Homo sapiens: one gene and its partners. The protein of the gene in region 4 purifies or fractionates together with the protein of the main gene of each other region. This does not show direct contact. Each region holds a gene or a part of one and is shown on either strand. Other genes may lie near its edges.

Region 1 (3,500 bases), on a different chromosome or scaffold from region 4:
AAAAATACAAAATTAGCTGGGCGTGGTGGCACATGCCTGTAATCTCAGCTACTCAGGAGGCTGAGGCAGGAGAATCACTTGAACCCGGGAGGCGGAGGTTGCGGTGAGCCAAGATCATACCATTGCACTCCAGCCTGGGCAACAAGAGTGAAACTCTGTCTCAAAAAAAAAAAAAAAAAAAATTGCATCTCACTTGGCTGGGCACAGTGGCTCACAACTGTAATCCCAGAATTTTGGGAGGCCAAAACAGGAGGATCACTTGAGCCCAGGAGGTTCAAAACCAGCAAGACTCCATCTCTACTAAAGAAAAAAAAAAAAAACAAAAAACAGCTGGGTATGGTGGCAAGCACTTGTAATCCTAGCTACTCAGAAGGCTGAGGCAGGAAGATCACTTGAGCCCAGGACATCAAGGCTGCAGTGAGTTGATTTTGCCACTGCACTCCAGCGTGGGCAACAGGGCAAGATCCCGTCTCCAAAAAAAAAAAAAAAAAAAAAAAAAAAAAAGGTCAGGCATGGTGGCTCACGCCTGTAATCCCAGCACTTTGGGAGGCTGAGGCAGGTGGATCACGAGGTCAGGAGATCGAGACCATCCTGGCTAACACAGTAAAACCCCGTCTCTACTAAAAATACAAAAAATTAGCCGGGCGTGGTGGTGGGCACCTGTAGTTCCAGCTATTCGGGAGGCTGAGGCAGGAGAATGGCGTGAACCTGGGAGGCGGAGCTTGCAGTGAGCCGAGATCATGCCACTGCACTCCAGCCTGGGCGACAGAGCGACACTCCGTCAAAGAAAAAAAAAAAAACATAAAAAGTAAAAATAAGATTCCATCTCACCTGGCCGGGCACAGTGGCTCATGCCTGTAATCCCAATACTTTGGGAGGCTGAGGGGTGAGGATCACTTGAGACCAGGAATTCAAGACCAGCCTGAACAACATAGCGGCAACCTATCTCAAAAAAAAAAAAAAAAAAAGCCTGGCATAGTAGAGTGCACTAATACACCCAGCTATTCAGGAGGCTGAGGTGGGAGGATCACTTGAGCCCAGGAGTTTGAGACTGCACTGAGCTGTGATCTTGCCACTGCACTCCAGCCTGGGCAACACAGCTACACTCTGTCTCAAAATAAATAAATAAATAAATTGCATGTCACCTTCTCCCCACCTGCATTACTTAACAGGCCTGGGAGTAAGACTTTGGTAGGTGCACCATGATGGGTGCCACAACCTCGACAGTATGCAATTGTCAGGTTTTGAAGGAGCTGGCTGCAGCTGAAACCGCCGGAGGGTTCTAAACAGTGAGGCAACATGATCCACCTTATATCATAACAGGATCTCTCTGCCTCCCACGCTGAGAACAGGCTGAAGAGAGCCAGGGCAGAAGCAGGGAGACTGGCATCCAGGCAGAGATAGACGATGGCACAGGAGAGCTGGGTGGGGGTGGTGGAAGGGAGGAGAATCTATCTACCTTGAATCTGTCTTGAAGGTAGAGCCACCGGGGTTTGCTGATGGGTCGGGTATGGCCCTGAACCTCCCCAAACCCTCTGGGACCCTGCAAGGAGTGGTCCTTTCTCCCACAATGGGGCTCCAGCTCATGCAGCATCCACAGGTCTACTGACCTGCCCCAAGGACAGAGCCCCACATGGATGGCATTTCCCCAACATTTAATCAGGAAAAAACATTCCATGAACAAAGAAAAACTCATGCAACTAAAGAGGAGAGAACGGGGGGTCTGGGACTGTCAGACAGGGCCAGATTCCTCAGAGGAGGCAGAAGACACAGAGTAGTAAGGCACGGCCGCCTTGGCCCCACAGGGCGGGCACTGGACGGAGCGGGCGCTGAATGGGGCGGCTGAAGGAGTCGGAGCAGGTGCAGACAACACTGAGGACGTTTGGCAGTAGGCTCAGGAGGAGGAGCGTTCTAGGGCCCCCAGGCCCAAGTCAGGCCCTGGCACAAGCCTGAGTCCAGCCCTCCAGGTGCTCAGAGAGAATAGGGCCCCGAGATGCTTGAGGGGGACCCTGTGGTCCAGCGTGGCACAGCCACAATTCTGAGGAAGCTTTGGAGGCCTCACCCCAAGTGCTGCTGGTACCGTGACCCCGCCTTGGAATGGGTGGGGTCAGCCATGGCAAGGGTGAGGTGCCAGAGGCCAGACCGAGGCTGATAATGCTACACAAAGGAGCCCAGACGGGTGGCAGGGCCCAGGACAGCTCAAGAAGAGGCAGGTGAGTGAGGGTGGCGACATCCGGTGGGGGGACACATATTTACAGATGGAGACAGAGGCGAAGTTCGATTCAATAAATAGGCAGAGGGATATAAATAGCAGGGAGGGTGGGACTGTCCCAACACCTGGGCACAGGGCAGGAGGGTGGGGGTATTGCTGCTGCTGGGGTGGGGGCTCGCCCTGTCACCCCTCCCCCTGCAGGGCCCAAAGCAAGGCACTAATGAAGGGGGCCTGGGTGTGCCGGGGGCATCGTGGCCAGGGTGACCTGCCCCACGATACCCAATCCAGGGCTCAGCCCGGGGACCCAGGCTTGAGCCAGCCACTCCCCTGGATGGGAGGACGGCACAGGACTGAGAAGCCCCCTCCTCACCGATTCCACCACCTTAGCTGTCGCTGGACACGAGGCTGATGATCTGTTCCAGTTTCTGCCGCAACTTATGCTTCCGACAAGAGGCATCTCGGTCCAGAGCCGTGAGAATCTGGGGGAGAGGAGTCCCCTGGAGCTGGGCTCTGTAGGGGGCGCAGCTCCTGCCATGCAAAGTCCCCACTTCCCAGCTGGGCTCCTCCCTCCCACACGCCTCATCCCTCCGTCCTCCCCCGCAGCCCCTGTACAAACCCACCAGCTCTCCCCAGCCCCAAATGCCCCTCCGACGACAGCACTTTCTCCTCCTCCTCTCCACAGCTAGGGTGCGGCCTGTCCCTAGAGTGACCTGGACTCTGGACTCGCCGTGCTGGATTCCCCCTCCCATTACCTCCTAGCCCAAGCCTCCCTCGCGCCAGGACCCCGTGACCCTCGCCAGACCCAGTGAGTGTTCTGCAGGTCACCATCCTTCACCAGCAGCAGCACTGGAAGATGGAGCCGGCCACTGCCACTCCCTGACCTGTGAGGGGTCCTCACTGGCTCAGGTTGCCAGACCCCACCAGGCGCTCTCAGGCATCCTCCCCGCTGGCTGCTGCACCTCCCCTCCCCTCCCCTCTTTGTGTCCTGGGGCCCTGGGCTCAGTGTTTGGGCCGCTTCTCCCTCCACACCCACTTGTGGCTTCCCTGTGAGCTCATCCAGGCTCAGGGCTTTAAATGCCATCCACAGGCTTGCAAATGTGTCCAGCCCAGACTCCATCCTAAAGTCCACACCTCTATGTCCTCCTGCCTCTGGCTATTTCTCATCACAAAGCCTGACCCATCCCTTCCAGTGCTCAGGCCCTTTAACTTTTGCCCAGTGGCCACTTTGTACCCAGCCAGTGGCTTATCTCCTGGGTCCCTCAAATTCCAGCATCTACCTGTGATCCCA
Region 2 (3,500 bases), on a different chromosome or scaffold from region 4:
TTAAATAACCCTTTTTTTGTGGGGATTGGGGTGGGTGTTTGTCTTCCATGTAGTTTATATCCTGGAACCTGGAGATCCTCCTTTGTTACAGCAACCACTACAGACATCCAAATCTGGTATTCAACAAATAATTGAGTGCTTTCGATCAGGTATGAATGTTTTAGGATATATTTTTCAATCTTCACATAGTAGTTAAAAACTACCTAGAAGTCCTTAGAAATAATTTTTAAAAAACATTAAAATGTATATGTTGGCTTTCTTTATAGAATATTTAAAATTTTCATATTTTAAAAAAGTGGATGTATAAATACTGACTTGGTCTAGAGATTATTCTTCAGTACTATATATGGTATATTAATTTTAAAATAAATTTGTTTAGTATGATTTAAATAAATATATTATGTGGTGTATTTTCTGGTAAAGCACTTCTTAAAGATCCATTGATATCTTTTGGCATGTTTTGTGTAAACTCTCAAAAGGCAGTAAATTATTCTGGGTCTTCATGAGCTTTGGTACAGTAGATTACTCAGAATGTCTGAGATGTCATTTGTTCTAGGTTAATTACCTTATTTATGTTTGTGTGATCACCTCCTTCATCCTAACCCTTGAGTTTGTGGAGTTTTGGTATCTTTAATAGAGCGCAAGATAGAAGAAAGACAATATTCCAGCCCTGATATCTTCAGGTAGATTTGCTTAGATTTTATTTTCATTAGCTGATAATAAGAATTAGCTTTATAATAAATATAATTGTGTAATTGTAATCCAGTGTTTTAAAATAGGTATTACTTACAACATGTGAAATGATTGGGAACTGTTAGCGCCCCTATGTTATCAGTAAGATGTTAGGTTGCTGTGATTCCTATAATCCACTTGTCCACCCCTTGTGTATTTGGCTTCTCTGACATTACAGAGTATTCACTCAGATGTGAACAAGCAAATAAATATGACTGATGGACACTTAGAGGATTAGAATACCTTGTCATTATTTAAATCTTAACTAACTGAATGAAAAATTTCTGAGGTTCAAAGGAAAAATAATTCATATGTAACTACTTGTTTTGTATTGATGAGATTTTTTGAGTTGCTTGTTTCTAAATTGTTATAAACGGGGAAATCATATATTTGCTTTACTTTAGGATTCTAAGAAATAGAATCTGAATTAAAACATTTATTTTTTCTCTGACTCTCCAAAAGATCCATTTCTTAGACTTTTCATCTGTAGTACTCATGGCATTGCTTTTATCTGTATTTAATTTAGGAAGCATTGCTTGTATACCAAGTGCCTATCCTTATATTGGATGGTGGTATAAACTATTTTAGGGATTTTTTGTTGTTTGATTTTTACTTTTGATAATTGCCCTCGACTAACAGATAATTTATAGGTCAAATTTTCTTGTGATAAGTTCAATTAAAATAGAATTTTACTTATTAGGGACAGTATTTATATTTCTGGCATAACAGAAAAAATAGTGTCTGTTTGTTTTAGCTTCTTTTAGAATAGAGATTAAAGGGTTTTTTTGGTTCTTTCTCATACCATGGAAATGACAGCAATAGCTTTTCATATTTAGTAATATTACTTGTTATAGGTTTCTTTTTTAAAATTCTTAATTTGGAATTAATGAAGTTATACTATGTCAGTTTACTATAGCATTTTTTTATTGAGAAGTTAGAATTAGGCTGGGCGCGGTGGCTCACGTCTGTAATCCCAGCACTTTGGGAGGCCGAGGCGGGCAGATCACGAGGTCAGGAGATCGAGACCATCCTGGCTAACACGGTGAAACTCCGTCTCTACTAAAAATACAAAAAATTAGCTGGGGGGCGGCGGCGGGCGCCTGTAGTCTCAGCTACTCGAGAGGCTGAGGCAGGAGAATGGCGTGAACCCGGGAGGGGGAGCTTGCAGTGAGCCAAGATAGCGCCACTGCAGTCCGGCCTGGAGGAAAGAGTGAGACTCTGTCTAAAAAAAAAAAAAAAAAAAAAAAAAGAAGTTAGAATTAGTTAAGTCATAAGTGCTTTGACTTGTTAAAAAACAGCCTTATCAACAAGAACCTGTACCCAAAATCTGTGTGGGTACAGAATTAAAAAAGATTCCAAAAATCTTTTTTAATTTTAGAAGGCAAATATTTAAAGATTAAATTAATTATTTTCTTATTATGTTGTGATCATATCTGTTCTCTGTGTTTGTCGTATTTTTACTCTCTGAGCTAAAGAAGTGAGGCAGTGAAACGGGTAATTTGAAATGGTAAAATTCCAAAGCCATTTTATGTTGATGTTTTGAACTGCGATCTTTTTAAAATGATATCAGCAAATTTGCCTTTTGAGTTATTTTTTATTTAGGCAAATTCTGAAAATACTATTATTTTAATTTTCTGAGTACCCAACAGTTTAAGTTAGAGGTGATTTAGAAATATGCTGAGTGGTACAAAGAAACTAATCTTGGATTAAAAAAAGAATTATTTTACTTCATTACTGTATCCTGTAACTAAGAAATTTTAGTTTCTTCAAGATAGTAATCTCTTGCATTTCTGGTTAATCTAATGTCTACTGTGGTAGCCCTTCTTTAGCACTAAGGCATTTAAGTTGAGACTGACTAAAACCTTGGGAGAATGGTATGGAAGTCTGGACTGTATAACTTGGGGACAAAGATCCCTTCTAGCTCTGAGGCTCTGTTCTTCCTATTCCACTCTACTCCTAAGCACACCCTCAATGACTCATCTATTTCTAGGCTCTTTCCATTACAATTAGGTCACACACGTTGCATTTAAAGAACTATCCTGGTGGTGCTATATATCTTTGACAGATATTTGAAGATAGAACCCTGAAGTCCATGCTTTTGCTCTTGTTAACCTGTAGGGTATAAATCAGGTTGAATGGTAGTAATATGTTAGGTTATCTACCTTTATCTTCAAGCTCAGATAGTTATCTTCAACTGCTGTATCATCTCCTTTTGTGTCTCACCTTCTGCCTACACTGGGCTGTCTATGACCAGGTATTAATTCCTATGCAAGCTGGAAGTTCATAAAAAGTTCTGTCTTATGAAGGAGTTGACTCATTTTTAATGTCCACCACTTGATGTGTGCTATACTGACTGCTTGACCAGTTTTAACCCATCCTGTTTGCCTGACATTTCAGCTTTTCCTTTGAACTGTTTTCTTGGATTTAAATTACAAATTCTTATTGACTTCTGGTATATCTTTATTAGTCTGCTTAACTTGCAAATTAAGTTAAATGGGTTTTTCTTTTTATAATAAGTAATATGTGTCTGTGGTTTTAAATAGTAAAGTACAAAAGGGTATAGAGGAAAAAATAAGTTTCTATACTATTCTGTCCTTCAGTTCCCCTTTGCTCAGGCAACGCTGCTACATGGTTTATGTGTCTTCTTCCAGAGACCTTTTATACATATACAAACATATATCCCTCATTTTCTTCTTACACAAATGGTAGCTGACTCTACGTACTCTTGTGTACCTTTGCTTTATTAACTGTAGATTCAACTATTTATT
Region 3 (4,112 bases), on a different chromosome or scaffold from region 4:
TTCCAAAAAGATTTCAGGAAGCTCTATGGTCAATCTTTTTAAAAAATTTAATAGCAAAAACAAAAACAAAAAAAACACCAATGATGTATAATTTGGGCTGTTTTGGAAAGCTAAATGCTGAAATGTTTACTTCTGAAAAAGATGCTTTCTCATCAGATCATTCAGCAGTAATTACACTGACCTAGCACCTAAACATCTTGGTTTAAAAATAAAGTGAACTCCCAACATGTGATAACAAGGCTTAAACTTGTATCTGTTATAAACTTGCTGGTTAATAGAAACTACTTAAAAGGAACCACCTTACGTCATTAGTGTTGCTTCATTTATTTCCTTTGCTTTTCAGCGAGGCGATCCTAAAGAGACGCCGAACCCAGTGACCATCTTTAGCACACGTGATTGTGCTCCTCCTTTTGAGGAACAGATGAGTGAAAATGACAGACTTCTGTATCATACTGCGTTGGCTCATAAGTGTTAACCATTAAAAGACAATATAACTGAGCTTTCCTAAAATAAACCATTTATTGAAAAAAGAACCTTTTTCTTAAATTTCAGTAATCAGCCTTTTGCATTACAAACCTGCAGCTTGCCAACAACAACAAAAAAGGTAAAGGTTTCACAGTCAGTGCACTCAACAAACAGGAGATTAAAAACAAGGTATGGGACGCCTGATAACACTACAACTTCTTTTGAACCTAGAAAGGTCAAAACACTACGCTGATGTCACGGTTCTCAGTCGCGCGAGACACGGAGGAGACAGAGGCGATGGTCCGTGTACAGTAGTAATGGCACTTAACATGCAGCTTCTTTAACCTCGTGGCCACCAGCCCTCCAGAGGGCCTTTTGCCACATCAGACAAACAGGAGCAGCAGGAGAAGTGACGCTTGTCACCTGTGCAGTCTTCAGTCTTGGAAGGTTAAAAAGGCTTATACTGCTTCTCAGCACAGTCTTTATGTAAATATTACATACAGTAGTGATTAAGAGAATTTTCCAAGTCCATATTCTACTAGGCTTCATTCTTCATCTGTGCAAACCTGTGAGGAAGCAGGAGAGAGCTGAGCTCTTGCAGAGCCAGGTGTGTGCTTGTGCATACGCGCAGTATGAGTCTTACGGGGAAGGCCCCATCCACTCATCCTGATGCTCCCAGCACTGTACTGGGCACAGAGGGCAAGGCTTAAGAAATGTAATGAACAATGGCAGAGGTAAGTTACTGCTCTAAAGTTAAGCCTGGGAACTGACTAATGAAAGCATTTTCTAAAACGCCTATATGCACTCTCAGGTCAATATAAATTGTTATGCACTTCATAACTAAGACATAAATTGTTATTTAATTACAAATCCCTAATGTCTCCATAGCTGATCCTGCTGCTTGCCCCTTACTCCCACTTACCAATAAGAGCATCACCCCACTCTTCTGCCCCTTCCTTTCCTTTCCCAGGGACTCTCTCCTGCAGGGCCCTTGCAAGGCTCTTTTCTCCAGGGCTCTGTTCTCATCCCCTTGTCCTCTGTGGACCCTCCCAGCAATACTTCTGTCTCCCACACCTGTGCCCTACCCAAAATCCCTCTTGAGTGCCAGCCCCAGGTATCCAAATGCCCATGTGAAATCTCCAAGCAGATGCTCCAAATGTACCCCAAGCTTCATCCACCAAAGAGGACCCACCACCTCCCGACCCACCCCTCACCCAGCTGCTTCTTTCCCTACCCTGGCAAATAGAGTCTGTGACCTGATGACACAAACCAGAAACCTGGGAGCCACTCTAGACTCCTCCCCTCACTCACCTTTCACATCCAATCAGGGGTCAGCCACGGCACTCTAACTCTTAAATGCCGCTGTTCACTCACCCGGAACGCCCTCTCCCAACCCCTTGGCTGTATCAGAACCTTCTCAATTCCTTTGCCTCTAGAGTGATCTTTCTAAAACTCTATGTCATCATTTATGTTTATAATAAAATGGAAACTCCTTCATGTTGCTCCTGGTTACTGTTCTAGCCTTATCTTCCTGCCCTTGTCCACATCCTGTGTTCACCAGGATCTACCTACACAGGGCTCTGTGACCATCCCACTCTCCCGGAAGGGTGAGCGTTTCCAAGTTTCTTTACTTTGTCTTCCATGCCCCCTCCCCCACTTCTGACCTGGCTGTGGCTCTTAAACAACTAAGGTACCTCATTCTAGAGAAAAAAGAACTGAGATTGGCTGACTTAATTAAATTCCTCTTCTGAGTAACCTTATATACCATTATCACAGCTCTCAGTATAATGATTAGTCATTACCGTCTTGACCCTCCAAGTAGACTATACACTCTCAAGAGTGGAAACTCTTTCATCCAGTCCCATCTAAAAGTCCATTTTACTGTCTCTGGTGTATCTTAAATGCACCATCAAAACAGATCAAGTGGAAGAACCTCAATGAACATTTTCCAAATGAAAAAACACATACAAAAATCCCTGGCATAATAATACATTTAGTTCCTTTCCACTTCAGATATAGCTACTTTAAAGTTTCAAAATTTCATTAACGTCTTGATGCAAAACAGAACTTAAACACTTAAACATGAAAAAGACTATCCAGTAATCTGCCAAACCTTGACAAACGAATGGTCGAGGAGCTGGCTGGCGGTCCATCTCATCTTTGGGTCACTCTCAAGGCAGTGAGAAAGGAAGTCCTTTCCTTCAGGGCTTAATCTTTCAGGGATTGGTGGCTTATGTCCCATCCCCACTTTATACATAATTTGAAAGTTGTGCTCATACTCATGCCAAGGCCTCTAAAAAAGATGTTTTTAAAAAATCAGATTTTAATATTACACAGCCACAAACAACGCAAATGTTCAGTCTGTTTTTAAGCATCTCATCATTAATATATATCAGGGGACAGCAAATTTTTACTGAAAGGGCCAAACAATATTTTAGGTTGACAGGCCATATGATCTCTATCACAACTATTCACTAATCTCATGGCAGCATGGTAGCAGCTATGGACAACACATAAATGAATATGACTGTTCCAACAAAACTTTATTTATAAAACAGGTGGCCAGCATAGTTTGCCTACTCCATTTGGGGTGCACTATTTAGTCCAACAGTATCTAGAAGCCATCATCATGCAACTAAAAAATATATAAAATGACATAAAAAAGTCTATAAAACCCAATTCTCTTATAGGGATGGTTAATATGCTACCTTATTGAAAAATAAAAATTGCATTAGTGCAAAGCTTATTTCATTATGATCCTATGAAAAATGAGATTCACAGGGGAAGGAACTAAGTGTGTATGGCATTCTAATTTCTAAACTATTGTTTCGTCATTGCCAATATGTATTCTTCAATATGAGAACCTGTTCTTTTATGTGTGGCTTTACTGGAATAACACAGATATCACAACTGCCTTTCTATTTTAATGCTAATAGAAATAATGCTAGCTAATATTTACTGAGCACTTATATGTGATCTGTTTCAGCAGCTGCAAGGCATAGCTACATTATAATTAACTGATTTCCTACTAGTAACTTAACACTAACTTTTAACTTAGAAATGAAGGTTTCTAACTTTTTTGCTATAATACTGTATGTGTACGGTAAGCTACCATGTGCAGTTCATGCGTGTCTTTTTACATTTGTATAACTGCTCATTAATATTATCATCATAAGATACATTTTCAGAAGCAGAAAACTTCTTGGTTTAAGTGCTATGCACATTTAAAATTTTGATAGAGATTGGAAATGTCTCCGGAGCAGCCCTACCACATGGAATTTCTGTCCAAAACATGTGTGTTTCTTTATATACTCTCTAAAAGATAGTATTCTCAATCTTTAAAAATGTCACTCAGCACTTCGGGAGGCTGAGGCAGGCGGATCATGAGGTCAGGAGTTCGAGACCAGCCTGGCCAACACAGTGAAACCCTGTCTCTACCAAAGTACAAAACTTAGCCAGGCATGGTGGCAGGTGCCTGTAATCCCAGCTACTTGGGAGGCTGAGGCAGAAGAATTGCTTGAACCCGGGAGGCGGAGGTTGCAGTGAGCCGAGATCATGCCACTTGCACTCCTGCCTGGCGACAGAGCGAGACTCCATCTCAAAAAAAAAAAAAAAAAAAAAAAAAGTCACTCATATGCTAAGTAAAA
Region 4 (3,500 bases):
TGAACCCAGGTCTACCTGGCTCTGGAACAGGAACTCTTATCTACTATATTATAATCCTATGAGCTTGTCAACTATTGTGTTTGTTTGTTTTGAGATGGAGTCTCGCTCTGTTGCCCAGGCTAGGGTTCAGTGGCACAATCTTGGCTCACTGCAACCTCCGCCTCCCAGGTTCAAGCAATTCTCCTGCCTCAGCCTCCTGAGTAGCTGGGAATACAGGTGTGCACCACCATGCCCAGCTAATTTTTATATTTTTAGTAGAGACATGGTTTCACCATGTTGGCCAGGCTGGTCCCAAACTCCTGACCTCAGATGATCTGCCTGCCTCAGCCTCCCAAAGTGCTGGGATTACAGGCATGAGCCACTGCGCCTGTCAACTATTGTGGGGTTTCTTTTGGTTTTATTTGAGATGGAGTCTTGCTCGATGTCGCCTAGGCTGGAGTGCAGTTGTGTGATCCCAGCTCACTGCAACCTCCACCTCCCAGGTTAGAGCGATTCTCCTGCCTTTGCCTCCCAAGTAGCTGGAATTACAGGCACCCACCACCACGCCTGGCTAATTTTTGTATTTTTAGTAGAGATGGGGTTTCACCATGTTGGACCAGGCTGGTCTCAAACTCCTGACCTCAGGTAATCTGCCTGCCTTGGCCTCCCAAAATGCTGGGATTACAGGTGTGAGCCACCGCACCCGGCCTAATTATTGTGTTTTTAATGAGCATAATTCTCAGCAGGCACCTTGTATGAGGGTCAGAGGGCAGATCGCTGGTCTCTGAAGAGCCTACTAAGGAGCTTGGTTTTCTTCTGCGGCTGTAGGAGGAGGAAAGGCAAGCTCTGACTCTGAGGTTGGAGGCAGAACAGCAGCGGTGCTGTGTCCTGCAGGAAGAGCGGGATGCAGCTCGGGCTGGGCAACTGAGTGAGCATCGAGAGTTGGAGACTCTTCGGGCTGCCCTAGAAGAAGAACGGCAGACCTGGGCCCAGCAAGAGCACCAGCTTAAGGAACACTACCAGGCGCTGCAGGAGGAGAGCCAGGCTCAGCTGGAAAGGGAGAAGGTAAAAGTGGCAGTTGGAAGAGCTGAGGAACTAGGGAGTAGATGAAGGGCAAAATAATTGAATGGGATGGAATGTTAGAATATGGGGGATACATATAGGCAGGAATGGAGAGTAGAGAGCCATGTGTGGGAGACAAGGTTGAGAGTATAGGGCCAGCAGGAAGGGCTGGGGGTAATGAATACGTGAAAGGCCAAAGACTGAAATTCAACAGGGATGGGGAAATAAAACAAATGGGAGGAGCTGGGGGAAGCTTGGATTTTAGGGTTTGGGAGGATGAACTGGGGAGTGTAGGTAACCAGGAGATAAGAAATGAGGTATGTATATACATTTGATTTGTCTTTCATAGGAGAAGAGCCAGAGGGAAGCCCAGGCCGCCTGGGAGACCCAGCACCAGTTGGCATTGGTGCAGTCTGAGGTGCGGCGGCTGGAAGGAGAGCTGGATACAGCTCGGAGAGAGAGAGATGCCCTGCAGCTGGAAATGAGCTTGGTGCAGGTCAGAAGGCAGAGGTTTCTTGAGGTTTTGTTCTGACAGAAGTAGATCTGAGGCAGAGGGACCTCTCAGGAGTTGTGGCAGACACTCCCAGTTCAGGTGTTTGGGGTTTAATTCCATTAACAGTTTCTATGTAGTATGGGTAGTTTTCTGTCCTAAACTCAGAGCTATTTCTTACTGAGTGACCATTTCCCACAATATGTCAGACTGACCTAGTGTTACTTTTAGGATTAAATAGATTTAAATCTATTAAAGATACCTTATGTTATTTTAAGAGATGACACCACACTTAGTGGGTTGACAGAGCAGGTGAAAGCTTTTGTCAGAGACTTGATTCCAATTGTAACAGTGTGCTTTGTAATTCTCATTACTTGAATAACTTGTATTAATTTCTCTGAGTAGGTCAGGGACCCAGGAGGGCAATGATTTTTTAATTTACTTATGAAACTTCCATAACAGCACATGGCCTGGCACAGAATTGTACTCAAAAATTGTTTGTCAGATATAATTACACTTTGAAAAACTCTTTCCATCTAGCTAACACACTGAATTTTAAATTCAAACTAGTCGGACTCTTGCCATGGAATAGAGCAGGAGTTGGCGAACTTTTTCTGTAAAGGGCCAGACAGTAAATATTTTTAGCTTTGTGGGTTGTATGGTCTCAGTTGCAACTACCCAACTCTGCTGTTATACCACAGAAGTAGCTATAAACTGTACGTAAACAAATGGGCACAGCTGTGTTCTAGTACAACTTATCTAAACAGGCAATGGAGGGCTGAATTGGGCTGTAGTTCGCCGATCTCCAGAATAGAGGAAAGGATTGGAGAGAGCTGTGTTCCAGCCCATGGGGGAGACACAGCGTTGAAGAGGAAAGAGTATTGCATTAGGACTTAGGGCACTTACGTCTACTTCTAGCTAGAATTTTGACCTTTATGGGCCTCTGTTTTTATGTATAAAATGTGTAAGGACAAATTGATGAATTTTCCAGGTGCAAGCCAGTCTGAGAGGCTATGTTCCTTATAAATGGTTAACTTAAGGAGGTACCAGTGAGGCCAGCATTTGAGAACCACAATCCTTTGGCCCGGTATGGTGGCTCATGCCTGTAATCCCAGCACTGTGGGAGGCCAAGGCGGGTGGATCACTTGAGCCCAGGAGTTTGAGACCAGCCCGGCCAACATGGTGAAACCCTGTCTCTACTAAAAATACAAAAATTATCCAGGTGTATGGTGCACACCTGTAGTCCCGGCTACTAAGAAGGCCGAGGCAGGAGAATCGCTTGAACCCGGGAGGTGGAGGTTGCAGTGAGCCCAGATTGAACCAGTGTACTCCAGCCTGGGCAACAGAGTGAGACTCCATCTCAAAAAAAAAAAAAAAAAAAGAATTGACCTAGGGCTTCAGGTGTTACAATGAGATCACATGCGATAAAGACTAAGAAAGCATCCGGGTGTGGTGGCTCGCACCTGGAATCCCAGCACTTTGGGAGGCCGAAACGGGCAGATTGCTTGAGCCCAGGAGTTCAAGACCAACCTGGGCGCAATATGGCAGTACCTAAACTCTGCTAAAAATACAAAAACTTAGCCGGGTATAGTGGCATGCACCTGTAGTCCCAGCTACTCGGGAGGCTGAGGTGGGAGGATCAACTGAACCCTGGAAGTAGAGGCTGCAGTGACCCGTGATCACACCACTGCACTCCAGCCTGGGTGACAGGAGCGAGACCGAGTCTCAAAAAAAAAAAAGACAGAAAGGGCCAGGTGTGGTGGCTCACGCCTGTAATCCCAGCACTTTGGGAGGCTGAAGTGGGAGGATTGCTTGAGTCCAAGAGTTTGAGACCAGTCTGGGCAACATAATGAGACCCCATCTCTACAAAAAATAAAAATATTAGCTGGGTGTTGTGGCACCAGCTTGTAGTCCCAGCTACTCTGGAGGCTGAGGTGGGAGGATCTCTTGAGTCTGGGAGGTCAAGACT
Region 5 (3,500 bases), on a different chromosome or scaffold from region 4:
GGTCCTTGGCAGGGGGGCCTGCGCTGTCCGCTGCAGCCTGGGCTCTGAGCAGTGCTATCCCTAGACCCTACTCAGGGGATCCTCTGAACTCTGGCCCTGCCCTGCAGCTTGAGCTATTTTTGCACAGCTCTGTGGTGTGTGGCTTTTAAATGGCTCATAAGCAGCAGGCTTTCTGCGGTGATTTTTTTTTTTCCATCTCACACTGTGTCCCCTCCTTGTCTCCCCTACCCTGTCTCTGAGGGTCCATCTCTCTGGGTCTCTTCTTGGGCCTCCTCACCTCCTCCCGACCTTTCTGCCTTTCCTCATTTCTCGGGGCCTGACCCTGCAGGCTGAGGCTGGCCGCGTGGAGCTCGAGCTCTCCATGACCAAGCTGAGGGCAGAGGAGGCCTCCCTGCAGGACTCCCTGTCCAAGCTGAGCGCCCTCAACGAGAGCCTTGCTCAGGACAAGTTGGATCTGAACCGCCTTGTCGCCCAGGTACGCTGTGCACCTGCGGGCCCACCTGCCTTGCCCACCCATCCTCCCCACTCAGTGAGGCACCCCGGGCCCAGCCCTGTACCTGTCTTGGCCCCTGCCTCCCTTTCTGTCCCTGGTTCTCTGTCTGTCTCTGGTTCTCTGTCTGTCTGTCTATCCCCTCTAGGCGTCAAAGCACAGAAGTTCCATGGGCCCTCCTCATCTCCCCCTCCCCAGTGTCCCATACACCCAAGGGCACTGTCCCTCATTCCCTGGGAGCCTCCCCTGGGCTATTGTTGCTGGTGGGTGGGTGGAGGAGGCGTCCTGGTCCTGGGAGGGACGCCCTGCTCACGAGGCCCCACTCCTACCTGGCCTCCAGCTGGAGGAAGAAAAGTCCGCCCTGCAGGGCCGGCAACGGCAGGCAGAGCAGGAGGCCACAGTGGCGCGGGAAGAGCAGGAACGGCTAGAGGAGCTGCGGTTGGAGCAGGAGGTGGCGCGGCAGGGCCTGGAGGGCTCCCTACGAGTGGCGGAGCAGGCCCAGGAGGCATTGGAGCAGCAGCTCCCCACGCTGCGCCATGAGCGCAGCCAGCTGCAGGAGCAGCTAGCGCAGGTGGGCAAAGCTGTGTGTGGGGGTGGTGTGGAGAGCATGTGGGGCAGGCCGGGCTCCCAGCCCCCTGCATCCAGTCCTGGGTTAAGTCACAGGCACTGGAGCCTGCTTCTGGGTTAAATCCAGCCCCACTTCTGCTAGCTGGGGACCTTGGACAAGCTGCCCAATCTCCCATACCTCAGTTGCCCCATCTATAACATGGGGCCAGCCAGGCGCAGTGGCTCACGCCTATAATCCCAGCACTTTGGGAGGCCGAGGCGGGTGGATCACCTGAGGTCCGGAGATCAAGACCATCCTGGCTAACACGGTGAAACCCTATCTCTACAAAAAATTAGCTGGGCGTGGTGGCACGCGCCTGTAGTCCCAGCTACTTGGGAGGCTGAGGCAGGAGAATCGCTTGAACCCAGGAGGCAGAGGTTGCAGTGAGCCAAGATCATGCCACTGCACTCCAGCCTGGGCAACAGAGCAAGACTCCGTCTCAATAATAATAATAATAATAATAATAATAATAATGATACAGATTAATAATAGGTGGAGACTTTTTAGAATTGGAATCTTAGACTTTTGGGAACATCACATCTGGAAGAGACCTTAATGTTTCAGGGATCCAGGGACCTTCATGCAAGGTCTATCCTGGAGCGCCTAGGTTTCTGGGAGGGGCCTCTAGAGGATGGGGTAGGGGGTGCAGGAAGCAGGGTGCAGGTCTCCACCTTGAGGCCTGCCGAGCAGCTGCACTTGGGTCTGGTTTATATATTCAGCTTCTCTGCAAGTTTAGAGTAATACAAGGGTTCTGTTACTCCCAGAGCTGAGTGAGGGCCCTCATTTTTTTTGTTTCATTTTGTTTTGTTTTTGTTGTTGTTTTTTTTTCCAGACAGAGTCTTGCTCTGTTGCCCAGGCTGGAATGCAGTGGCACGATCTGGGCTCACTGCAACCTCCGCCTCCAGGGTTTAAGCTGTTCGCCTGCCTCAGCGTCCCAAGTAGCAGGGACTACAGGCGTGCACCACCACGCCCGGCTAATTTTTGTATTTTTAGTAGAGACAGGGTTTCACCCCGTTGGCCAGGCTGGTCTTGAACTCCTGACCTCAAGTGATCCACCTGCCAAAGTGCTGGGATTATAGGCACGCACCACCGTACCTGGCTGGGCCCTGGTTTTTGTACACACGTGCATTGCAGATCTAGAGAAGGTCATGACTTGCCCAAGTACATGTAGCACATCAGGGCAGACCCTGGGCTCAAACCCAGGCCTTCTGCCAGGACTGGGTTAGGCCCAGAGTTGGGGTGCTGCACGATGAACAAGCTGGGGGACGCTGGGAGTGCTACTCAGTCTCTGGGTGGGGGCCAGCTCTCCCGGCAGCTGAGCGGGCGGGAGCAGGAGCTGGAGCAGGCCCGGCGGGAGGCCCAGCGGCAAGTGGAGGCGCTGGAGCGAGCGGCCCGTGAGAAGGAGGCGCTAGCCAAGGAGCACGCTGGCCTGGCTGTGCAGCTGGTGGCTGCGGAGCGTGAAGGCAGGACCCTGTCAGAGGAGGCCACACGCCTGCGGTAAGGCCTTGGGCTCTGCCCAACCCGCCCTGGGGGGTCCTCCTGGGGCCACACCATGACCAGCCACACGCAGGCACGGGCCCCCAGGGGCAGTTACTAAGGAGTCTGGCTTGCCGACTCGTCCTAGCTGTGGCTCAGGCTTCCCCAGGGAGTGTGGGCCTGGCCAGGCAGGTAGATTGGCACTTGGCCCATGCCTGGCCACTCCCTGAGATCCACAGTTTCCTGGGGCCAGGGAGGCTGAGTCCCAGGGCCTCAGGGACTGTATGTGCTGCAGCTTGGAGAAGGAAGCCCTGGAGGGCAGCCTGTTTGAGGTGCAACGGCAGCTGGCCCAGCTTGAGGCCCGCCGGGAGCAGCTGGAAGCCGAGGGGCAGGCCCTGCTGCTGGCCAAGGAGACCCTGACTGGTACGAGGGGCTGGGGACTTGGGGGGAACACCAGGTTCCAGCCCAGACTGCAGCCTCCCAAGGTCTGGGGTCTCACAGAAGTTGGGAGCACTGGAGTAGGAGTCTGGCTGGCCTGGGTTCCAGTCCTGTGCCACCACTTAGATCTCACCTTCCCTTGAGCAAGCCCCTTTCCTCTCTGGGCTGCAGATTCCTCAGCTGATGATTGGAGGTGGCAATGCCCACCTTCTAAGCCTGTTGCCAGGATGACGTGGGAAAAGCGTGTAAGGCCGTGGCACGGTGCCTGGCTGAGTCAACAGTAACTGCCGTTCATCGGTCATCAGGCCTGTTAGTCTGAGTTCTCTGTGCTTTTCAGATGACTCTCTTGGCCCCAGAATCCCAGCCCCACTTCCCTGCACCGTTCCCATCCAGTCTCTGAACTCAGGGCTTCTTTCTGCTCACCTAACATTAACTAAGCACCTACTTGGGTCATGGAAATTAATTTTCCTGTCCATGTACACCTGAGCC
Region 6 (3,500 bases), on a different chromosome or scaffold from region 4:
TGGTAACAGATCACAAAATGTATGTTTTTTCCTCTAAACATATTTTTGCTGTTTGTTTTTATTATTAATGTTTAAATCATTTTAACACTACACAAAGCAATGAAGAATACATGCTTCAACATGAATGAATCTTGGAAACGTGCTAAGTGAAGCCAGACACAAAAGGACAAATGTCGTATGATTCTACTTAGATGAGTTACCAAGAATAGGCAAATCCACAGAGAAAAAAAAGTAGTTCCAAGGGTTGGAAGGGGAGGAGGAAATAGAGAGTTATTGTTTAATGGGTACAGAGTTTCTGTTTGGTATGGTAAAGTTCTGGAAATAGATAGTGGTGATGGTGGCACGACATTGTGAATGTATTTACTACGACTGAGTTGTACACTTAAAAATAGTTAAAATGGTAAGTTTTATGTTATGTATAGTTTACCACAATTTTTATTTTTTAAAAAAGGAACAATGACATAGGAAAAAAATCAGGGTTTGCCATATTGTGGACTGGTACAGTCAACCTTTGCATTCCGAGCTACCTGGACCTGTTAGACACTGTCACCTGCAGTTTGGGGGCCCTGTTAATATCTTTCCTTGGAAAGTACTCACTACTCACTGCCTGTATTTATTAACTACTCCGTTTGTCCCAGATCATGCCCACTCACCTCCCTGCATTGCCATCAGGGCGACCCTCTCTTCCCGTGAATCCTGTCTGCCCCTATGTTGGGCTAAGGCTAAGGTTAAGGCACTGAAGGGTCCCATTACTGTGACAAAAGAGCAATGGCCAGGAAAGAAATCATGCCTCATGCGAAGACCATCGGCAGACACAGTGGTTGGGTGCTCATGGTTAGGCATCAGTATGACTTGGGTTAAATCCTTGCCCTCCTGGTTTCCAGCTCCCTGGCCTGGAAGGCGTTTAACCTCTCTGAGCATCAGCTCATTCATAGGCAGAGCTCCCCCGTGGGGCAGTGGGGAGGACCCAGAAAGGCAAGAGCAGGTAAAGGCCTCAGGATCTGTAACCATTCCCAGGACCCAGGGATGCTCCTCTCATTCTGTGAAGCTAGCAATCTCCTGATTTGGAATGTCTTCTACCTGTTAAAATGTTATTTTAGCTGAAAAAACAAAAAACAATCCAAAAACCCCACCTCATTCTCTTGCTCTCTGAAGTGGTTTTGAAGTTACTAGGAATCAAATTTAACTACATGGAGTGCCAGTCACTTCCACAGACTCTGTCTCCTTTACCTGAATCACACCTGTGCCAGAGCTCCCTCAAGGACACAACAGGAGCAAATTCCACAGGGATAGAAATGTCCACTGACCTGTGAGGCGCTCTAGGGTGTCAAATCCATGTTTTAGCGCGATAACATCAAGGAATGAGATGGTGCCATCTTCAAACCTATAACCACGGGGTAAGGAGAACAGGTCAAGCTGTGGTCAAAACAATCCATGTGCATTTCGTGGTATATAATGAGCTTTAGATTTTAGGCTTAGCTGTTGATGTGGTTTGGCTTTATGTCTCCACCTAAATCTCATCTCTAATTGTAATCCCCAGGTGTTGAGGGATGGACCTGGTAGGAGGTGATTGGATTATGGGGATGGTTTCCCCCTTGCTGTTCTCATTTCGTGATAGTGAGGGAGTTCTCACGAGATCTGATGGTTTTATAAATGGCAGTTCCCCTGGGCTCTTCTCTGTCTCTCCTGCTGCCTTGTGAAGAAAGTGCCTGCTTCCCTTTCCGCCATGATTGTAAGTTTCCTGAGGCCTCTCCAGCAATGCAGAACTGTGAGCCAATTAAACCTCCTTTGTTTATAAATTACCCAGTCTTGGGTAGTATCTTTATAACAGTGTGAAATTGGACTAATACCGCTGTAATCTATTAATACCTTCCCTCTGCTGTCTTATAAAACATTGCTCTCCCCTTCAGGATGGGGGCACTTTGTACACCAAGACCTGTCCAGCTGCCTCTGGCCCTGACCCACTCTGCAGTTTTCTTGGGCTGCTCTAAATTTCCTAGGGTGGCCAGGTGCAGTGGCTCATGCCTGTTATCTCAACACTTTGGGAGGCCCAGGTGGGAGGATCACTTGAGGCCAAGAGTTTGAAACTACCTGCCTGTGCAACACCCCATCTCTACAAAAAGCAAGACCCCATCTCTAGATAGCAAGACCCCATCTCTACAAAAAAATTTGTTAAACTAGCCAGTTATTGATTGACAATTATTTATTGATCAAATACTTAATAGATTTCTTAAAATAAAAGTTTTTTGTTTCTGTCAAGGGATGTACTTCGCTGAGTTATAAAATAAAGTTGAGAACATAGTCAAGGTATTTATTCAATAAACCTTTAGGTTGAGTATTAAATCTATTGAGTTCTAGTCCTAAGTTCACAAGAAAAAAATTGGCTTATAATGGTAAATAAATAAATTCAGCTTTCTGGGAATGTTGGCGTGTCATCTGTTGTAAAGTCATCTACCTGAATCAAAGGAAAGAGGTCTGATCCCCCCCAGCCCATTCATGCCCTGGCCCCCAGTGAGCTGCCCCACTTCTCCTGGCCTTCAGGTGCCCTTATTGGCCAAATTAAATTTGAGGTGTCGCTTTGTTCTGCCTGTAACTTACATTATGTTATGCCTGTCATTCTTTTCTCATTTGATTCTGTTACATGGTAAATTATCACACTTGGAGTCAAGAGGTTTTACATGAGCATTCCTGTTTTAGAAGCCCCCCAACTATGGACAAGTCCTAAATAAAAGAGGCATCAAATAGCCTCCTAACATTGATCCCTACCATTCTGATACTTCACCCATGTTAGCTCTAAAAGGACAATATTATCATTTCTTTTTTTTTTTTTTTTGGAGATGGAGTCTTGCTCTGTCACCAGGGCTAGAGTGCAGTGGGTATGATCTTGACTCATTGCAACGTCTGCCTCCTGGGCTCAAGCAATTCTCCTGCCTCAATCTCTTGAGCAGCTGAGATTACAAGCACCCACCACCACACTCAGCTAATTTTTGTGTTTTTAGTAGAGACGGAGTTTCACCATGTTGGGCAGGCTGGTCTCGAACTCCTGACCTCATGATCCACCCACCTTGGCCTCCCAAAGTGCTGGGATTACAGGTGTGAGCCACCACACCCGACCCAATATTATCATTTCTACTTTACAGAAAAAACATGAGGTGCAGAGAACAAGTCACATGTCCCCTCGCTGGTGTGCAGTGGAGCGGGGACTCATTCCCCAGTGGTCCAGCCTGAGGCTTACACAGCTAACACTGACTCTATCGTCAAGGCCATGGCCCTACGTGCAGGACCCTTGCGTCTGTGTGGGGTCTGTTGGGGATCTAAAGCCCTTCCCGTCTATGCCCCAGGCCTTCTCCGGACCCTGGAGGTGATTAGTTGCCTACCCAACCCTGTGTCCCCACTGTTGACCCAGCAGAACCCTGGATCAGCCACCATTTTCAGCCTTGACACACTCGACCTTACAGGTCCCAGCTGTTACCATTTGAAAGAGTCCTGAGCATAACCCA
Region 7 (3,500 bases), on a different chromosome or scaffold from region 4:
GCTCAGAAAGGCCCTACTGCCACCCTGTGGTCAGGAAGCCTAAGGATGACTTTCTTACAGGTGAAAGACATACGAAGCCACAATGATTTAAGGAGAAACTGTCAGGCACTTTCCCTATTTCTACCAGGATAGGGCCTACAAGTGCCATTTCCAACACATGACCCGCAGGATATAGTTATGGGCCCTTTGTCTCCTCTTCTTATCCATTTTCCTCACCGAAACTGGATTCATTATTATGGTTATAAAGTTGTCTCAGATTTCAAAGCTCTTCATGTGAAAAGTCATCCAATCACAATTGAAGCAGCTCTTACAAATGACCTCAAGATTCTTGCCCCAGCAAGTAAAAAGTTAAAAGACCTTTCTTACCTTGGGAAAGCCATACTGACATTTCCCACCACATTGGAGACTTATGTATGCCCTCAAGAGCAAACAAAAATAACACCAGCTACAACTCAGTTTCCTTCAACTGAGTTCTTCCCAACTCTGTTATTAAGATGGACATAAACCTCCTCCTATTTTAAAAAAAGTTTACGCCTATCCTCTTGCTAGCCTTTGCCAAGCCTTGTTGCAAACCCTTCACAGGGACAAGAATAAAAATCAAGAGTCAAGAGTCACAGGCTGCTCCACGTTTCCACTCTAAGAATGGGGTAAGTGGCAATATGTGATGAGAGGGAGAGAACAACCCTTTCTCCCCAACACAGGACTGGTAGGGAAAGAGGTAGGAGCAGTGTACCAGCTACTCCTCATCTGAGTTCTTCTCTTAGGGGTGAATTACAGCTTCAGGCACACACTATTCATGACCACCACAGCAAAGTGGTAGAGAGCACAGAAGTAGCCACAGGTTGTGCCAGTAGGCATTACTATGTTCATATGTACCCTTCTACAAGGTGCCCAAGGCTTGCTGATACTTCCTGTAAACACAGCAGCACTATAAATACTTACAGTGTGTTCCACGTATTCTTTTCCTGCCTGAATTACATCCAGGGCCCTCTTCTTTTGCTCCTGATCCAGTAGCAACTTGTAAGCTTTGTCCACAGCTAATGCAAAACATTGAAATTAACTGTTTCTGCAAACACCCTCTGAAAGTCTGAACTATACTCAGGCAGTGTAAATGGACTTGTGCTCTCTAAAGCATTCCCTACTTTAATTATTTACTGTCGTTAAACTAAGTTAAAAAAAACATTCAACTATAGCAATGACTTTCCTTAAGAGCCTTGGAAAAAATTAAATATATACTCAAGGCTAAATACACTACATCTGGATTTAATTCAGTGATAAAATTCTTTATGTTCAAAGAAAAAAAATGATCCTATGCAATAACAGTCTTTGTTGGCATATAAAAGTTTTAACAAAGCAAAGTTAAGGTCTACTTCTTAAACAACAACATTCTGCTTTGAAATGGCAACTGCTCTACTGAAAACCACAGCTTCTTGGTGACCAGAAGACAAAACTATAACAGTCTTTGCTTGATCTAGGACAAGGAACAGTTAGGCCCTGCCATTCACAATCTAATACTCAGAAGCAGGTAAATTTACAAATACCTTCAAAAGCCTTTTGTGCTCTGTCAGCATCATCTTGATTTTTGTCAGGATGCACCAAGATGGATAACTACAATAAGAGAAAAGTTGGGGTTGTCAATAAGGGAAACATTTACTAACTTCCAGCCTGCCCTGTCTCGTTACAACCAAAAGCTCTAAGGTCCTACGGCAAAAAGAGACTCTTAGCAAAAGCATTTAAAAAATTAACAAATCTCTTTAAATGCCCAGAAATACTGATCTTTAACAAAATTCAAGCACCAAAAGGTAAAGGTACAACTAGGAAACATTTCAGGTTTTAATCACAAAGTTGAGACCAAACATGCCAGGCACAGAGGCTCACGCCTGTCATCCCACCACTTTGGGAGGCTGAGGTGAGAGGATTACTTAAGCCCAGGACTTCGAGACCAGCCTGAGCAACATAGCAAGACCCTGTCTCTACAAAAAAAAAATTTTTTAATTACCCAGACATGGTGGTGGTCGCCTGTAGTCCAAGCTATTTAGGAAGCTAACGTGGGAGAATCACTTGAGCCTGGGAGGTTGAGATTGTGCCACTGCACTCCAGCCTGGGCAACAAAGTGAGACCCTGTCTCCAGGAAAAAACAAAAACAAAAACAAAAACAAAAACAAATGGAAGCCTAGCACTATGAAGATGTTGTAATAATTTGGGGGAGGAGGGAGACTGAAAGGTATCAAGTTCCTATTATGTTCCTTATGCAGGTTGAGCACCCAAAATCCAAAAGGCTCCAAAATCTGAAACTTTCTGAGTGCTAACATGATGCTCAAAGGAAACGCTCATTGGAACATTTTGAATTTTCGGATTAGGGATGCTCGACCATTATGCATTCTGCAAATATTCCAAAATCTGAAAAAATCTGAAATCTGAAATACTTCTAGTCTCAAGCATTTCAGATAAGGGATACTCAACCTGTACTAAGCACTAAGGTGGCTAAAGCAGGTATGAGACATCAACTCTCTCCTAAAAGAACTCCTAATCTAAAGCAGTTTCTCATTCTGCCTGTGCTCCAACCCTGTGAAGCTTCTGAAAAAGACAACATTCTAATTTCCACCCTCAGACCTTCTGAGTTAGTCTTTGGCATCTGCACTTTGTAAACCTCTACTAGACTGGGTTTCAGATGATCGTAGGGAATTAGCCCTTATTTTGTTAGGTGGGATAAGTGATTATGCAAGAAAATGTCCTTTTTTTGGGAAGGGTACAAGCTGAAGTATTTAGGGGTAAAGCATCATGGTTTATTGCAATTTACAATGATTCAGCCAAAAATATATAGTTAAATATATAGTCAGTGTCTGCCAGGAGCAGTGGCTCCCGCCTGTAATCCCAGCACTTTGGAAGGCTGAGGCTGGCAGATCACTTGAGGTCAGGAGTTCGAGACCAGCCTGGCCTACATGGTGAAACCCCGTCTCTACTAAAAATACAAAAATTTGGCAGGCACAGTGGCACACATCTATAATACCAGCTACTCAGGACGCTGAGGCAAGAGAATCACTTGAACTCAGGAGGTGGAGGCTGCCGTGAGCCAAGATCGCAACACTGTACTGCAACCTGGGTGACAGAGCCGGACTCCGTCTCAATAAATAAATAAATATATATATATATATATATATATATATATATATATATATATATATAAATGAAATTAACTATTCAATATAGATGGTGGATACATGAATATTCGTTGTTCTATTCTTTTTTTTTTTTTTTTTTTTGAGACAGAGTGTTGCTCTATCATCCAGGCTGGAGTGCAATGGTGCTATCCCAGCTCACTGCAGCCTCAATCTCCTGGACTCAAGTGATCCTCCCACCTCAGCCTTCTGAGTAGCTGGGACTACAGGCACGGCTAATTTTTGGCTTTTGCTGTTGTTGTTTTTCGTTTTTTGTAGAGACGGGGTTTCACCATGTTGCCCAGGCTGGTCACGAACTCCTGAGCTCAAGCAATCTGCCCG

Evidence for each region.
Region 1: the proteins of CNTROB (region 4) and PLXNA3 purify together in Homo sapiens (affinity purification with mass spectrometry; one large-scale study listed by BioGRID and IntAct). This does not show direct contact.
Region 2: the proteins of CNTROB (region 4) and ZNF800 purify together in Homo sapiens (affinity purification with mass spectrometry; one large-scale study listed by BioGRID and IntAct). This does not show direct contact.
Region 3: the proteins of CNTROB (region 4) and MAP3K4 purify together in Homo sapiens (affinity purification with mass spectrometry, with the first as the bait; one large-scale study listed by BioGRID). This does not show direct contact.
Region 5: the proteins of CNTROB (region 4) and CROCC purify together in Homo sapiens (co-immunoprecipitation; one large-scale study listed by IntAct). This does not show direct contact.
Region 6: the proteins of CNTROB (region 4) and MOCOS purify together in Homo sapiens (affinity purification with mass spectrometry; one large-scale study listed by BioGRID and IntAct). This does not show direct contact.
Region 7: the proteins of CNTROB (region 4) and DNAJC8 purify together in Homo sapiens (affinity purification with mass spectrometry; one large-scale study listed by BioGRID and IntAct). This does not show direct contact.

The regions. Positions count from the first base shown.
Region 1 is NC_000023.11:154,471,781-154,475,280, reverse strand, and holds part of PLXNA3 (plexin-A3 precursor), read right to left. Parts: intron 2,692-3,500; coding exon 2,596-2,691; 3' UTR 1-2,595. UniProt on the Homo sapiens protein: Coreceptor for SEMA3A and SEMA3F. Necessary for signaling by class 3 semaphorins and subsequent remodeling of the cytoskeleton. Plays a role in axon guidance in the developing nervous system.
Region 2 is NC_000007.14:127,382,709-127,386,208, reverse strand, and holds part of ZNF800 (zinc finger protein 800), read left to right. Parts: intron 1-53; coding exon 54-149; exon of another isoform or gene 150-683; intron 684-3,500. UniProt on the Homo sapiens protein: May be involved in transcriptional regulation.
Region 3 is NC_000006.12:161,113,769-161,117,880, reverse strand, and holds the end of MAP3K4 (mitogen-activated protein kinase kinase kinase 4), read right to left. Parts: intron 2,759-4,112; coding exon 2,579-2,758; intron 1,032-2,578; coding exon 1,011-1,031; 3' UTR 501-1,010; downstream 1-500. UniProt on the Homo sapiens protein: Component of a protein kinase signal transduction cascade. Activates the CSBP2, P38 and JNK MAPK pathways, but not the ERK pathway. Specifically phosphorylates and activates MAP2K4 and MAP2K6.
Region 4 is NC_000017.11:7,938,706-7,942,205, forward strand, and holds part of CNTROB (centrobin), read left to right. Parts: intron 1-807; coding exon 808-1,044; intron 1,045-1,390; coding exon 1,391-1,537; intron 1,538-3,500. UniProt on the Homo sapiens protein: Required for centriole duplication. Inhibition of centriole duplication leading to defects in cytokinesis.
Region 5 is NC_000001.11:16,945,931-16,949,430, forward strand, and holds part of CROCC (rootletin), read left to right. Parts: intron 1-328; coding exon 329-475; intron 476-830; coding exon 831-1,061; intron 1,062-2,400; coding exon 2,401-2,594; intron 2,595-2,868; coding exon 2,869-2,996; intron 2,997-3,500. UniProt on the Homo sapiens protein: Major structural component of the ciliary rootlet, a cytoskeletal-like structure in ciliated cells which originates from the basal body at the proximal end of a cilium and extends proximally toward the cell nucleus.
Region 6 is NC_000018.10:36,200,997-36,204,496, reverse strand, and holds part of MOCOS (molybdenum cofactor sulfurase), read right to left. Parts: intron 1,385-3,500; coding exon 1,308-1,384; intron 1-1,307. UniProt on the Homo sapiens protein: Sulfurates the molybdenum cofactor. Sulfation of molybdenum is essential for xanthine dehydrogenase (XDH) and aldehyde oxidase (ADO) enzymes in which molybdenum cofactor is liganded by 1 oxygen and 1 sulfur atom in active form.
Region 7 is NC_000001.11:28,209,030-28,212,529, forward strand, and holds part of DNAJC8 (dnaJ homolog subfamily C member 8), read right to left. Parts: intron 1,609-3,500; coding exon 1,542-1,608; intron 1,038-1,541; coding exon 943-1,037; intron 1-942. UniProt on the Homo sapiens protein: Suppresses polyglutamine (polyQ) aggregation of ATXN3 in neuronal cells.